Homo sapiens: one gene and its partner. The protein of the gene in region 1 purifies or fractionates together with the protein of each later gene. This does not show direct contact. Each region holds a gene or a part of one and is shown on either strand. Other genes may lie near its edges. The genes, in order: AMMECR1 and ZNF507.

Region 1 (3,827 bases):
ACACACTCCTCTTGTGGTCCCTACTTTGATTAAAGGGATTACCTTGGTCCCTTTTATCTAGATTAACGCCTTGACTTTCTTCTTTATTTCTAAATGATGACCCAGTCCTTTCATTTCTTCCACATTATTTTCATATCGATCCCAACCTTTCTTCCCATCTCACTGCCACAGCTCTAGTTAAGGCCCCTGTTGCACCTCTTTTGGACTGCTGCCACAGATTCTTAGATAATACCAACGCTTCCTGGCTCATTTTCCTGTTTCCAATTCCATTCTTATACCTCCCCAAGCCCATCTGATTAAAATCCTTCAATAGCTACCAATTGCCTATAGAACCAGGTCCAAACTAATTACTCTGGAACTCAGGACCCTCAATGGTCTGCCCAACCTACCTTCTGGGCCATATTTTCCTCTAATGATCAGCTTCTCTATTACACTAAAAGACCAGCCCAATCAGACTATTTCATATTCTCAGAACTTGCTTTGTACTTCACCACCCTTGACTCACAAGGTCTTCCTTAAGGGAATCACTTTCCTCCTGTCAAAAAAAAATCCCTTTTTACCTGTCAAATATTCTATCCATTCTTCAAACCCAGCCCCCAGCTGACCTCTTTGAAACTATCTGTTATCCCCCTCCCACCCTCTTAGAATTCCTCTTTCCCTACTTTATGGGAATGGATCTCATATTATCCATCATATTCTGCCTTAGATTAATAATTTTGTCCATGCCCCTTCTATTCTCCTCCACTGTGAACTCAGGGAGAGCAGAGATGGAGGTATTTCTGAATTTGTAACTCCTCAGAGCTGAGAATAGGCCATTTTTAGACTATAAGCATTCAATGTAGTTTTATGGAATTGAAATAAATGGAACCAGCAGCCCATTTTCCTAAAATGTACGGTATTTTCCTTTTTAAATAAGCATCCCTATTTTTTCATGCTGAAATTTATTTAGCATTTGAGTTTAGCTCAATTGTGTTTTTCAGCAAGCTAACAAGTTTTCTTGGTAGACTTCTATCACTGCCAAAATTCTGAGATTAAATTCGAATTTGAGGACTGTTTATCAGAATCCTGGGGTTCTGCTCAGTAATGTCAAAAGCTAGCCAATTGCTAATTCAAGTACTTTCTCCAATAAAGTAGTCTAAAATCTCCAAGGGCTTGCTCGTACAAAAGCCAGAGTAATCACACAGAGCTAAAGATGGGAAAGATAGGCTCATACATCACACAGGCTTTACTACGAAGCAGAGTTCCATTGTATCCACCCTCAGTATGACCCTGCCATTCATTTCCACTCTGTTTCAGAAAAAAGAAGTGTAGTTAGAGAGACCAAAGAAATCAAAGGGTTATAGGCATACACATCAAAATGTACAGGTTAGCCTTGTGCTAGAAAATGTCTTCTGTACCTGGTCAGTTTTATGGTTTTCCTGAATTCATTAGTAATCGGAGCTTTGTATCCTCCTTTCCTCAATAAGGAGTCTATGGTCTGTATATGGTCCCATCCTGTAGAGAGATGACCAGATAAAATATCAGTCAAGCACATGTAACAAACACCTTTCATTAAATACAAAATGACTTTGTAGAGGTCAGCTATCACTGTCACCAAATGCCATCAAATCTTTTGGTCCTAAAAACAATCACACAGAAAAGCTAAGATTTCATCCTTTACAAAAGCAGGGTCATCACCACACTCCTTAAATTCTAGCTATCCACAATGCCAAACAACACTGGCTCCTTTATCTTCGCATTCGAAGTCAAGGGGTCTAAGGGGCTGGCAGAAATTGCTCAGTCATGACTGTAACAAACCATATCTGTTGTACTTTCCTCTAACAGTGACATCTTTAAAAGGGAGTGAAAAGCCTATATGCCATTTTGCCAAGTCAATATTTAGGACTCCCACACCACCTCACAGTAATTGTTGTTCCTTATGGTATCTTCTGTAATTCTGTAATCATTCAAGTTTGTGTGCAGTATTCAAGGGTATTTTGATTAGTTCTGACATGGATGGTATACTAGTATCTGAGGCCCTCTATCTTTTATGTATGCTTTACAAAGTTAATGATACTAGGAGATTAAGACATTTTCTAAAGCAACCCAAATAAATCTTCAAGTAACTGCCTTGAAGACTTTCTGATCTGGGGATTTAATGGCATTAATTTTGCTATTATGTATCTCACATTTATAAGACAAACACGGGAAAACCAAATTACAAATGCTTTCTGATGAGAAGAAAAGCTCCCCAAGATAAAAGATTCATTTCGACCAACATGAAACCAGAATTTAGTAGTTGCTAAGAAAGGATAAAATACTACAGAGTGAAAAGTTACTTTGTGTTACAATGTTGGTTCATACAGGTCTATGCTCTATGTGTGAAACAGGAAAATTCTGATTAGGAAGTGTAGACCAAGCATATAAAACACTAACACTTCATGTTTTCGCAATCCTCTGATCTTAGTGGGAAACCTAGAATCTTAGTATCAGCAGGATGAGTAATGGCAACCACCTAAGAATGAAACATTTGATACTTAAAATGACAAAGAACTATGTGGCTGATTGTCAAACAAAAGGCTTGTTTATGCCACAATGGAATATGGGAAAAATGCATTTCAAATCGGTAGCAAATTGTTGCCTAAAATGAAAACCAACTAATATAAATTCTGCTTTTTAAAAAATATACACTTATGGGTTTATGCCATCAAACTTCAATGCAGGGATTCAACTTCTGTGAGTACTTCACCGACTTGATACAGACATTGCAGTGGCAGTGATGGAAGAGTCACTTCTTATAATTTGACACTTCAATTATTAGACATAACTGCAAGGTCAGATAACGCATTTCAGTTTGTATATTTGTTTAAATTCTTCACCAGATCATATGAAATAAAGTACAACAATGACCTTGCTCCTTTGCAACCTCCGGTAGGTAGGTGGCGGTGCGTTTTGATCCTTTTTCATTGATGAATTCTATTCTAATGCCATGTACACCCACCTGAAAGAAATTGGCAGTTTTATTAGTACAGTCTTCTTCATAGAATCAGAAAGAAAAGGTTATAATTTAACTTTCAAGAGAATGCAGTTCTTCCTTTCCCTTTGTTTTTAGAAGGACGTATAAGTTTTCTCTTTCCAAAGCTTTGACTTTGGATTTGAAGGCCATTATGATGGCCACGGAGAGGGAAAATATTGATTTGCATGTGCCCAACATGCACTAGGCTATGATACTATGTTTGGAAAACTGGAACAACTATTCTGAAGCTGTCTGTAGAATAAGACGGTTGATGGCAAAAATCCTGCCCCACTCCCAAATTGTAGCTCATGCCAATAAAGAACTAGAGACAAAGGTGACTGACTTCAAAGAGATAGCAAACAACCATCCTGTTTTGCAGGTACACTCACCACTTCTGATTAAGTTCCAAAATTTTTGGTGCTGATCCCCTCCCAAACTGTCTACTCCGTTTAAAACATTAAATTATACGTAGGCAAGCAAACACAGTCAGGTAAGATTGAAAATTAATAATGAAAACAACCAGATCCTACATCATCACCCAGTGTAGACAGCATTTCTTTAAAAATGCATTATGACTTAGAGTGGGGTAGTAGCAGACCTTCACTGTCCATCTACACCATTGTCTTCACACAGCTCTACTAAATTTAAGAATAAAGATTTCAAATCACTTCACTGTAGTGCATTATTGCAGTCTCTTTATATACTAGCCCAGAGACCACTGTAACTTTTTAATGTAAAACAAGCTTGTGGTGATGCCCTTAAAAAGGTAGTCTTCTAAGTAACTGTGAGCAATTTCTTGCTAATTTTTTTTTAATAATGTGCTTTTCCTTTG
Region 2 (3,827 bases), on another chromosome or scaffold:
GTGCCCACCACCATACCCAGCTAAGTTTTTGTATTTTTAGCAGACAGGGTTTCACAGTGTTAGCCAGGATGGTCTCAATCTCCTGACCTCATGATCTGCCCGCCTCGGCCTCCCTCCTGTGACCTTTTTACCACAGCTAGACCCCAGCTCTCGGTAATCTGAGGGAAAAAGTCTACCTCCTAGTTAGCCCTTAGGATAACATTTGTAATACATTTTCAAGGAGTCACCTGGCCCACTGAAGAAAAGTTCTAAACCAATGATTCAACGTTTCCTTTATAAAAGAATAGCACTTCATACAGGATATTGGTTTTGATAAGGTCAGCACTTAAGATAAAAATCAGACAGTCAAAATAACTCTTGAAAGTTCTTTACCCTGCCCATAAAACATGACACACATGGCTCTATTTCCATGACAGTACCTTTTAATAGGTCCGCCATAGCCCATTTTTCCTTCTGCAATGATACACATCACTGTTGGTTATGTAGAAGCTGAACTGAATGCCTGGCATTCTGGGGCCATATAAGATGAAAAATATGTATTTTTTTGTTGTGATGATGTACGGTTAAATTTGTTTAAGTCAAACGTATGTCAATACGTTAAGTCAAACGTATGTCAATCCACTATACACTCCCTACAATTCTCTTGCAACAGAAAATCAACACTTTAAACTATACACACTAAAACACAGAGGCTGTCAAGGAGGCAGCAGGCAGGGAAAAGGATTCTACAGCAGAAATTCTGAACAGTCCCAACTTTAATACTGGTAAGTTGGGATCCCCTTGGGCAACTTATCAAACTTTTCTGGGACCCAGTTTCCTTATCTATAAAATGAGGTGATTGGATTAGATCTACAAAGTTCCCTTCTCACTCTAAGATGCGAAGGTCCTCTGAAAGACTTCCTGAACCAATGCTTACCTTATAATGGAAGGATTCTTCACACTGCTTGCACTGGTATATTCTTGTCTTACAGTGGTGGATCATGTGACTCTCCAAATCTTTGCTGTTGTCCGCTATGTGCTCGCAGATAGGACACTGATAAGGCTGTCTCTGTCGATGGACTCGTAAGTGCTGCTTGATGTAGCCCTTGTTGCCACTTGTGTAGTGACACAGGCGGCAACGGTAGGGTCGTTCAGCATTCGGGATGTATTCCACCACATTGTTTCCGGACAAACTTGTATCGCTGTTGGGTTGGCACTGGGCGTTGTCCTGCAACTCTTTCAAAATGTCATCGTCTGAAGCGTTTTGGTCTGTCCTTTCTCTCAATTTTTCAATGACGGTGAGTAAGGACATGCTGATGCCTGTCTTAACCTGCCCATCTGACAATTCCTGCCTACCCTCTGGGAGTGCTACCAAGGTGGAGTTGCTTTGGTTAAGACTAGTTAATCCATCTGAAGAGTTTTTAAGTGGCGACATCATTTTTGAGTACGCTGCCAATGTACTATCTACTTGCCTTTGACTAGTATCTGGATCTAAAAGGTTTATATCTCCATAGTGCCCCAGGTTGGCTCTTGTCAACTCTGCAGCTCTTATAGGCATTGTGACAAGGGCTTCTGCAGCTAATGAGTGTAATCGAAGAGACTCAGAATTTGTCCTTCTCCGGCCTGGTGGGGCATTCTCATCAGTAGCCAGGCCTTTATTCATTAACTCGTCTTTTTTCTCTGAACTGCTCCAGCCTATGATCAATCCCCCAATATCAACAGTACATTTATCAGCACGATAAACATCATCCATTCCTTCGCGCCCAATCTGAGCTTCTGTCAGGCTCAGGTCCTTCCCTTCTTCCATTTCAGTGTTCATGAGGAAGCGCTTCTGTGAAAGGGTTTCTTCAGCACTTGGCAATCGCTCCACTATCACGTTAACATGCCCTTTTTTATTGGGGCTGCTGCTGATGATTTTCTGTGCTGATGTAAGCAGGCTATCAGGAATCAGATTCTCCTCTGCATCAGAAATCACTTCTAGCATTTCTTCCTCATTGGGGTCCAGGGTAACTGACTGACTTAGGTGTACTCCTCTTTCTGCACTCTGTTCTAAAGGAGATGAAGATGATAACTGTTCTGAGCTGCAAATCTGCACTTGCACTGATGGCCCATTGTGGATACTCAGTTCACTCTCTCCAATAGCAATGACGACTGCATCGACCCCACCAGGCGCAGCAGCTGCTGAAGAATCCAGCAGGCCTAGGGGTTCATTTTCATTTTCAAAGATTGGATAGGAGCAATCAACCTCCCCAGCATGTTTCCAAGCGTGTGTTTTCAACATTCTCTGCTGGCCACAAGTATAACTACAAAACAAGCATCGATACATGCCGTACTGTTCGTATGCATACCATTTCCTCCTACCCATTTCTGCCACAGATGCAGTTTGGACAGTATGAGTCTGTAGATTGTCCACACTTACTGGGATATCTGGAATGGTTTCATTTCTTTCTGTGGTTTTCCGACACAAAGAGCTGGAGGGGCTTACGCACTGTTGGGCTTTGGATTGGGTGTGGATATTGGCATCATTGTCATGGTCATTCACCACGTGGGCTTCAAGTTCCTCCTGGCTTCTAGATGTAATATGGCACTCTGAGCACATCAGTATCACTTCATTTTGCTGACCATGTTGCTTAATATGATCTTTTAACACGGAAAAGGATGATGATAGAAACTTACAAAGGCTACACTGATAAGACATAGCCTTCCCTTCATTCTGGGCAAGAGTGTCAGGGGTAAAATTTGTTTGTGACATCTCAGCCCTTCTAGTATCAGCAGCAGGTGACTGGATTACTTTAGCCGGAATCTCACAAAGTTCTTGGGTTTCAAGAGAGTGTGTTGCAGCACTTGAACGTGGGCGTTTCTTCCCAATTAAAAGACATTTTTGTGACTTTTCATTTTCCACTATCTTGCTTAACTTCTGGATAACATGGATTAATGGATCTGGTTTAGTTTTTCTTTGTTCATCAATTTCCAATGAAGGACTGATGATACTTTCAGCAGTCAGTATAGCTTCCTGTTCCCCAATATCTGGCACCAACATGGCAACACTGCTACTTTCTTCCATATCTAAAAAGGATAATGTAAAACAGAAAAATACCAGGTTACAGGATAATTACAGGCATGTAATTTGGAAAATATAAGAGAATGTTAGTGTCTGTAATCTCATCTAAGTATTTTCTAAGCTGGAAGCTCCATGTCCACACACCCGGCGATCCCCAGTATAGATTTAAATTGGTTAGAATTTCTCTTTACAATGCAATCTTCTATCAAGACTAATGATGAAGATACTCCCCTCTATCACTTATTTCTTCGGAAATGATGATCTTTTTCTCCATTTTTCTTCACTTTCTTTGCCTTCAGCATCCAGCAGGACCAAAAGTACTCCCTCCCTTTTGCACAATGCCAAGAAAAAAAAAAAAAGACTCCTATTCCTTGATTAAAGGAGCACAGCCATTCTCAAGGCATGTGAAACCCCTCCAGTTACTGTGAAACATCACTCTGTAAAGCCAATGACTGATACAATTCTTGAGAGTATTTCTTATACCAAATATAGCTGCAGTTTTATTACTAAAATCACAAATTTGTTTTTTTTCTCCCCAAATCTTTGAAATTGTGAAACTATAGTCATGTAGTTTGTACAGGGCATATTGAATTTGGGAAAGTACTATATAAATGAAATTAAATAAAAGCAATAATCTAGTTCCTACTTTTACTTCCTTTATCTTCCTGAAGATAAACCACAAACTATGCTGTGGTTTTTTTTTAGAGGTCATATTAGTGGTCAACTATTACTCATATCCACATATATGGTTTTTTTTTTTTTCCCTGAAAGGGTAAGGGACATCAGA

What was found.
Region 2: the proteins of AMMECR1 (region 1) and ZNF507 purify together in Homo sapiens (affinity purification with mass spectrometry; one large-scale study listed by BioGRID and IntAct). This does not show direct contact.

Annotation. Positions count from the first base shown.
Region 1 is NC_000023.11:110,199,557-110,203,383, forward strand, and holds part of AMMECR1 (nuclear protein AMMECR1), read right to left. Parts: intron 2,981-3,827; coding exon 2,890-2,980; intron 1,495-2,889; coding exon 1,398-1,494; intron 1-1,397.
Region 2 is NC_000019.10:32,352,047-32,355,873, reverse strand, and holds part of ZNF507 (zinc finger protein 507), read right to left. Parts: intron 3,046-3,827; 5' UTR 3,044-3,045; coding exon 917-3,043; intron 1-916. UniProt on the Homo sapiens protein: May be involved in transcriptional regulation.